2 linked regions of the Homo sapiens genome follow. Changing the gene in region 2 together with the main gene of any one other region gives a genetic interaction. Each region holds a gene or a part of one and is shown on either strand. Other genes may lie near its edges. The genes, in order: NF1 and PMVK.

Region 1 (3,820 bases), on a different chromosome or scaffold from region 2:
GTTCACACAGTAGCTTTCTTTAAAGGCTCACTTAATTTTGTGTTCAATAGTATGACAAGATAAGTAATCCTTTCAATTTGAGAGAAATTATTTTCAGTTGACTGCAGAAAACCACAGAACATTTTAGCTACTACAAATTAACTGGTGCAAGACAGTCAAGCATATAAATAAGAAGATGGTGGAAGATGAAATCACTTTTATTTACAATACAAAATAAATGACTGTCAATTTACATCCCGGTGACTTTTAACATGCTTATTAACTCTGATGCCTAGCATCCAAAGGGCACTAGAATCAATATTAGCTCCCGCTACTGGGCTGTTTTGAAGATGAAAATACCGAGGCAGATGCCCCATTTGCAATGCTCCATTTGCAAATATTCTTTTTTTGAGATGGAGTCTTACTCTGTCGCCCAGGCTGGAGTGCAGTGGCACCACCTTGGCTCACTGCAACCTCCTGGGTTCAAGAGATCTTCCCACCTCAGCCTCCCAGGTCGCTGGAGTTACAAACATGTGCCACCCTGGCTAATTTTTGTATTTTTAGTAGAGACAGGGTGTCACCATGTTGGCCAGGCTGGTCTCGAACTCCTAACCTCAAGTGATCCTCCCAACTCGGCCTCCCAGAGTGCTGGAATTACAAACATGCGCCATTGCACCCGGCCAATTTGCAAATATTCTTAACATATAAATAGCCAACAACTAGATATCGCTGACCACCACTGTCCCAAAACAGTTTTAGAAAAACGGCAATGAGAATTAGGACAGAGGGGTTCTAGTCCCAAAACAGATGTACAAGCATGGGCAAGTTACTTAACTTCTTAGTTCCTTTCTAATTTGCAAAATGGAGGTCTGATTAATAAACTCCATAAGACCTCTTACCTCTAAAATTTTGCTTCTATATTTTTCAGACCCATATCTGTTCCAGGTTCACACTACATCTGGTAGACTGAACTAATAATGTTTAGACCAAGTATCTTTTTACACTTAAAACCATAATCCTGTTCTTTGTACCCACAGTTCAGTTAATTTCACTTCAAGCAAATCTCACTGTATATACACATTCTTTTAAAAACATTCCCCTCTTTTCTCCTAGACCCTTCCCATTTTTATCCAAAGACAAAAGGGACGTAATTTCATACTATTTTATTCTCTCCTCTATTCTCTATGAACTAAAATCCAACCCCAATTAGATCTCCATTTTACAAATTAGAAAGGAACTAAGAAGTAATTTGCCCATGTTCATATATATATACACACACACATGCACACGTGCACACACACACACACACCCCATTAGCACCCCTCCTAACATTTATTAACCTTAATTGGAGTTGGATTTTACATATTTTATGTGTGTACACACACACACACACACACACACACTTTATATATATATATACACATACATTACATATATATGTGTGTATGTAATATATGTATACACACTTTTTTTTGGAGACAGGGTCTTGCTCTGTTGCCCAAGCTGGAGTGCAGTGGCGTGATCTCAGCTCACTGCAACCTCTGCCTCCCAGGCTCAAGCAATCCTCCTACCTCACCTCCCGAGTAGCTGGGATTGTAGGTGCATGCCACCATGCCTAGCTAATTTTTGCCTTTTTTGTAGAGATGGGGTTTTGCAAGTTGCCCAGGCTGTTCTCTAACTCCTGAGCTCAACTGATCCACCTGTCTTGGCCTCCCAAAGTGCTGGGACTACAGGTATGAGCCACCACTCCTGGCCACTAATGGTATATTTTAAAGTAAGATTAGACAGAATAAAAAAACTAGTAAAATTAAGTACCCAAAAGTTTCCTTTAGACTCTCCAACTTCCTTATCTACTATGAATTATACGTATTTTTCATTAAGTGGCATTATTAAGTAAAACTAAGATTACTTTTAGATTATTTCTTCACGTGTGAAATGGGGGGCAGAGAATGCTAACCTTTACCTTAAGGTTATGAAAATTAAAAATAAATGTATAGTGTTTAGCATACGGCCTGGCATGGTAGCTATTAATATTATTACCATGTATTGTTTATGCTCATTCTGTAAGGATGATCATGTATTATTTATCCTTATTCTGTAATTCTACTAGTATTAGGCCAGTACTGTTTTTTTTTTGTTTTTTTTTTTTTGCTATTTTTATGTAAAAAATATGCATTCAAGTTTACATAGTTCTTTATGAGCTGGTAAGGAAATATACTCACAATAAGTTACATTATACAAATTCCTACTTAAGTTATGGACTTCTTGTGATTTTAAAAGAATAGCAACAAGAAAAGATGGAAGAGTACTAAATTTGAGTAATCTAGGAACCTCAAGGCAAAGTTTGCTTACCTTGTCATTGAATATACGGAGACTATCTAAAGTATGCAGGTTTTGTTCAAGAAGTGCGGTACCTGCTGAATACAAGTTGACCTCATCAAGCTGCAGCACAGCCACAGCTACCCAAAAGAGGGCTTTGTGCAGAGGCGAGTCCTGGCAAAGAAGATATGTTTGAGGCTAGTAAGATGAATCATGACATAGTCTCTTTCAAAACACACTGCAGTTAAAAATAAAGCAGCTTATCTTCCTAAATTACCCATGTTTTCTCTTTTGGGGAAGATAAAGATATGAGTAAGCTCTTCACTTTTCCATATGTATAACTAAAGACACTGTTAGCTGGACTGAGAACGTTACTTAGCACCTCCTTTGACTTCTCCCTGTTCTTTGATTTCTAAATCCAGTCACCAAGGTTTGTTGATTCTTCTAGAGTAGTCTCTTTTGTATCTTTTGTCATTTCTTTCTTATTGCTAATGACATTACCACATGCCAACCTTCTTTATTATAAAGGTGGATTCTTTTTACTTCAGTTTCTCCCTACTCCAATCCACTGTGCACACTACCACCAGGAGCTAAGTCCTGCTTTCATCGTATGACTTGTCTGCTTAAAAACTGTACATTTCCAAACTCTTTTGAACAATGCTGAATGTGAGATGAGGTCTATCCAGTCCTCACAACTTTCCCTCTCTCGATTCCTTTGAAAAGCTTCTCCATTACAACTAGAATGTTCTACCCACCTTCCCTCCATTGTCCTGGCATTCTTGTGCAGCTCTCTCCCTTTCTCTCTACCTACATTAACTCCTATGTTTCCCTTTAACTTTATTTTAAACTGTCTTTTCAACTTCTTGTCACTCTTAACCAGTATGGTAATCTCTTGCTGCTCTGAATTAAAAGTATTTATTACTGGCAATCTTTACTTAGCACTGTGATATTAGGGAAAATACATGGACTTTAGAGTCAAATAGTATCACATTAGAATCATGGTTCTTTTATTAGGTATGTGACTTTGGGCAAGTTATTTAGCCCTTCTGAGCTCATTTTCACTTAGAAGATGGGGACCAGAGAACCATTTTGTATAATACAAAATTAGAATGCTTGTAGACAAACCAGGAATATAACAGGTATTATTTCTCTGTTATTTCTCCCAAGTCTGGCATACCTTTGTACTCAAATCACAGAATTAAACCACTTTAGAACTGGATGGTAATACCATGCCATTATCGAATCTTTTTCATTTTATTAATACAAAAACATGATTTCCAGATATCTTAAATATAAAAATGGGATAAGGTCAGACCATCCTAAAACAGTGGCCACTTCATTTTACTCCTTTTAAATATAATCTTCATTTGGCACCCAAACTCTTATGACGATCAAGTATACTTCTCCCAGCTTTAATTTCTCCATAGTAATAATCACTAACATACTACGTATTTTGTTTACTTCATTATCCATTCACTCCCCAACCTCCACACCCACCCCAGAAAGTAAGCTCCATGAAGGC
Region 2 (3,820 bases):
CCCCTCAGGCTCTCAATTTCTTGATCACCCACCTGCTCCCCTTGCTGCAAGAGGAGGTCAGTAGCCACCTCCTGCTCCTGAACCAGTTTCCCTCCAGGAGCGTTGTGGTCTACTTGTTGGTTATATTTCTTCTTGTGACTTAGGAAATCAATGCATGAACATTTCATTTTGGTTTTGTTTTTTAATGGGAGTGGGGGATAGAGTGGTGCTGGACTTGCACAGAGCAAGGGCAGTCTGGCCTATCAGAGTCTTCCATGGAGCTTTTAAAAATGCAAACTGGCCAGGCACAGTGGCTCACGCCTGTAATCCCAGCACTTTGGGAGGCCGAGGCGGGCAGATCACAAGGTCAGGAGTTCAAGACCAGCCTGACCAATATGGTGAAACCATGTCTCTACTAAAAATACAAAACAATTACCCGGGCGTGGTCACCCATGGCTGCAATCCCAGCTACTCAGGAGGCTAAGGCAGTAGAACTGCTTGAACCCCAGGAGGTGGAGGTTGCAGTGAGCCAAGATCGTGCCACTGCACTCTAGGCTGGGCGACAGAGCGAGACTCCGTCTCAAATATAAATAAAATAAATAAATAAATAAAAATGCAAACTCCTGCTCCTTCTTCCTCCCGCCCCCCACCCAACCCCACCAGTCTCACTCAGTAGGACAGAAGCAAGACCTGTCTGGGAACTTTGGAAGATCAGTTTTGAAAGTGCTCCTGGGAGGCCTTTGGAAGTGCCTAGGCCCCACTAGGGAAGGCTCAGTGCCTTCCCCTTCACCCCTTCCTTCCTCCCATCCCCCCACCACCACCCCACCACCCTGCAGCATCGCTCCCAGTCTGTCTCCTGGATACAAAGAAATTCTGTATCCAGTTTCATTTGGGAAAGAATCCTGCTTAAAATTTTTGAAAACCAGGCCAGGTAAAGTAGCTCCTGCCCAAATCCTAGCACTTTGGGAGGCCATAGTGGGAGGATCACTTGAGCCCAGGAGTTGGAGACCAGCCTGGGCAACATAATGAGACTCCCATCTCTACAAAAAAAAATTTTAAACTTAGCCAGGCATAGTGGCATGCACCTGTATTCCTAGCTACTTGGGAAGCTCAAGTGGGAGGATCACTTGAGCCCAGGAGGTCAAGGCTGCAGTGAGCCATTATGCGCCACTGCACTCCAGCCTGCGCTACAGAGCAAGACCTTGTCTCAAAAAGAAAAAAAAATAAACCACTTAATTTAGTTATTCTTACAATTCCTCAGGCTGCCACCCTATGAATAGGTCTGTTCAGCTGGTGAGAGATGACCCAATGCTTCCCATGGAGGCAAAGATGGCATATAGAAGGGGGGACAATTCATTTTATGTGGTTCCGGAAACCACACTCTGGCCAATTGAGGGGCCAAAGCACACGTCCCAGAAGGGTGCACCTAGAGGTCAAGGGCAAAATGTGGCGACAAGAGGGCTCTTCACCATGTGGGAGGCTGATCTTGCCTTCCAAGTTCCCTTTCTGAAGTCTAAGATTCTGAGAGTTCCTGTTGACTTATTTTTTTTATTCTATTTTAACGATTCTATTTTTTTTAATCCATGTGGTTCAAAATTCAAAGATACACATTAATTTACAGTCGAAAATCTCTCTCTCACCCTGTCCCCTCCCTGGGGGCAACCAATGGTACGGTTTCTAACCTGTCTTTCCCATGCAGTGCAGGAACACATCCCAGGCACCTGAAACAGTGCTGAACATGAGACAGGCACCCTGTAAATATTTGTTAAATAGCCAAATATATGAGCAGATATATTTAGAATTCTTTTACAATTCTTGGTCACAAAGTGCCTCTTCAGTTTTAGACAAATGTAGCATTCTCTACACACTGTTCTATATCTTGGTATTGGCTTTTTTTTTTTTTCACTTAATGATATATTTTGACAACTTCTGGGACTAAATTTCTTTTTTGTGTGTTGTTGTTTACTTTAAAAAAAATTTTTTTTAAAGAAACGGAGATGGGGTTTCACCATGTTGGCCAGGCTGGTCTCTAACTCCTGGACTCAAGCAATCTACCTGCCTCGGCCTCCCAAAGTGCTGGGATTACAGGCATGTGCCACCGTGCTCGGCCTGTACTAAATTTCTAGGAGCAAAGTTCTAGGGGCTGTGTCAGGCCAGCTGAGTGAGAGGGTGGTGTGAGGAGGCACAGGCAGGTCCTTACTAATCACACAGCATCAGAGCTGCCAACTCGAGTGTCGACAGCCTTTCCTGGGCACACCTTCCTGAACTCACTCTGAAGGGAGGGAGGCTATTAGGAAAGAAATATAAGCTGAAAATGCCCCCGAAAGGTCCACTCACAGAAAACCAAGAGCTGGCCACCACCCTGCCAGCAGTGGTGACGGGAATCATGCCAGTGACTCAGGCAGCAGCCACAGCTCCAAAGTCCTGGAGCCGGCCCCGCCCAACACACCGGATGCCACAAAGCACCACCTACCTGAGCATACTGTTCCTTGAGTGGACCAGAGAGCCGGAGGACAGCACAGACATCAGCTCCAAGTCTGCAGGACAGGGAGATCAGAATCCAGTTAGCCTAGAATTTCCAGGAGCTTCCATGTCCCAGAAAGGGAGTCAAGAGGCCTGTGTTGAAGTCCCATTTCTACTACTGGTATTATGTAACTTTGGTAGGTCTCAATGTCCCTGATCCTGTTTCCTCATCAGAAAATGGGGATAACACTTTCTGTTCTGTCTCCCACACAGGATTATTATGAAACTCTAAAGAATATAAAAGAGCCCTGAAACTAACAGGTAAAACCTATAAAGTGCTAATTACAGTGTGAACAGGCGCACAATATTCTAGCTGGATTAGGTTATTGCCCAGACCCTAAACTAATTCTCTCATAGCCAGAGGTATCTGTCTCCACTGACTTGGTCACCATAACATATATCATTTATTAATTCACTGGTTGGGCATGGTGGCTCACACCTGTAATCCCAATACTTTGGGAGGCCAAGGCAGGAGGAGTGCTTGAGGCCAGGAGTTCAAGACCAGCCTGGGCAACACAATAAGACCCAGAGATACCATCTCCACCAAAAAATTTAAAAATTAGCTGAGCATGGCAGCATGTGCCTGTACTCCCAGCTACTCCAGAGGCTGAGGTGGGAGCATTCCTGAGCCCAGGAGTTCCAGGCTACAGTGAGCCATGATTGTACCACTGTATGCCAGCCTGGGAGACAGAGTGAGACCCTGTCTCATAAAAATGAAATAAGAAAAGCAAATTTAAAAAACTGAAACAAAAGCCAGGTGTGGTGGCTCACGCCTGTAATCCCAGTACTTTGGAAGGCTGAGGCAGCAGATCACCTGAGGTCAGGAGTTTGAGACCAGCCTGACCAACACGGTGAAACCCTGTCTCTACTAAAAGCATAAAATTAGCCGGACATGATGGCGCATGCCTGTAATCCCAGCTACTCGGGAGGCTGAGGCAGGAGAATCACCTGAACCCAGGAGGTGGAAGTTGCAGTGAGCCGAGATCGCCCCATTGCACTCCAGCCTGGGCAACAAGAGTGAAAATCCATCTCAAAAATGAAAATAAAAATAAAAATAACTCATTCGTTATTTAATTTACTTAACCAACCTTTTTTTTTTTTTTTTTTTTTGAGACGGAGTCTTGCTCCACCACCCAGGCTGGAGTGCAATGGCGCGATCTCGGCTCACTGCAATCTCCGCCTCCCAGGTTTGAGCGATTCTCCTGCCTCGGCCTCCCAAGTAGCTGGGATTACAGGCGCCCGCCACTACACCCGGCTAATTTTTGTATTTTTAGTACAGACGGGGTTTTGCCATGTTGGCCAGGCTGGTCTCAAACTC

The links.
Region 1: changes in PMVK (region 2) and NF1 together harm fitness more than expected from each alone (negative genetic interaction), as found in Homo sapiens cells (one large-scale study listed by BioGRID).

What each region holds. Positions count from the first base shown.
Region 1 is NC_000017.11:31,339,157-31,342,976, reverse strand, and holds part of NF1 (neurofibromin), read right to left. Parts: intron 2,473-3,820; coding exon 2,332-2,472; intron 1-2,331. UniProt on the Homo sapiens protein: Stimulates the GTPase activity of Ras. NF1 shows greater affinity for Ras GAP, but lower specific activity. May be a regulator of Ras activity.
Region 2 is NC_000001.11:154,929,900-154,933,719, forward strand, and holds part of PMVK (phosphomevalonate kinase), read right to left. Parts: intron 2,517-3,820; coding exon 2,453-2,516; intron 1-2,452. UniProt on the Homo sapiens protein: Catalyzes the reversible ATP-dependent phosphorylation of mevalonate 5-phosphate to produce mevalonate diphosphate and ADP, a key step in the mevalonic acid mediated biosynthesis of isopentenyl diphosphate and other polyisoprenoid metabolites.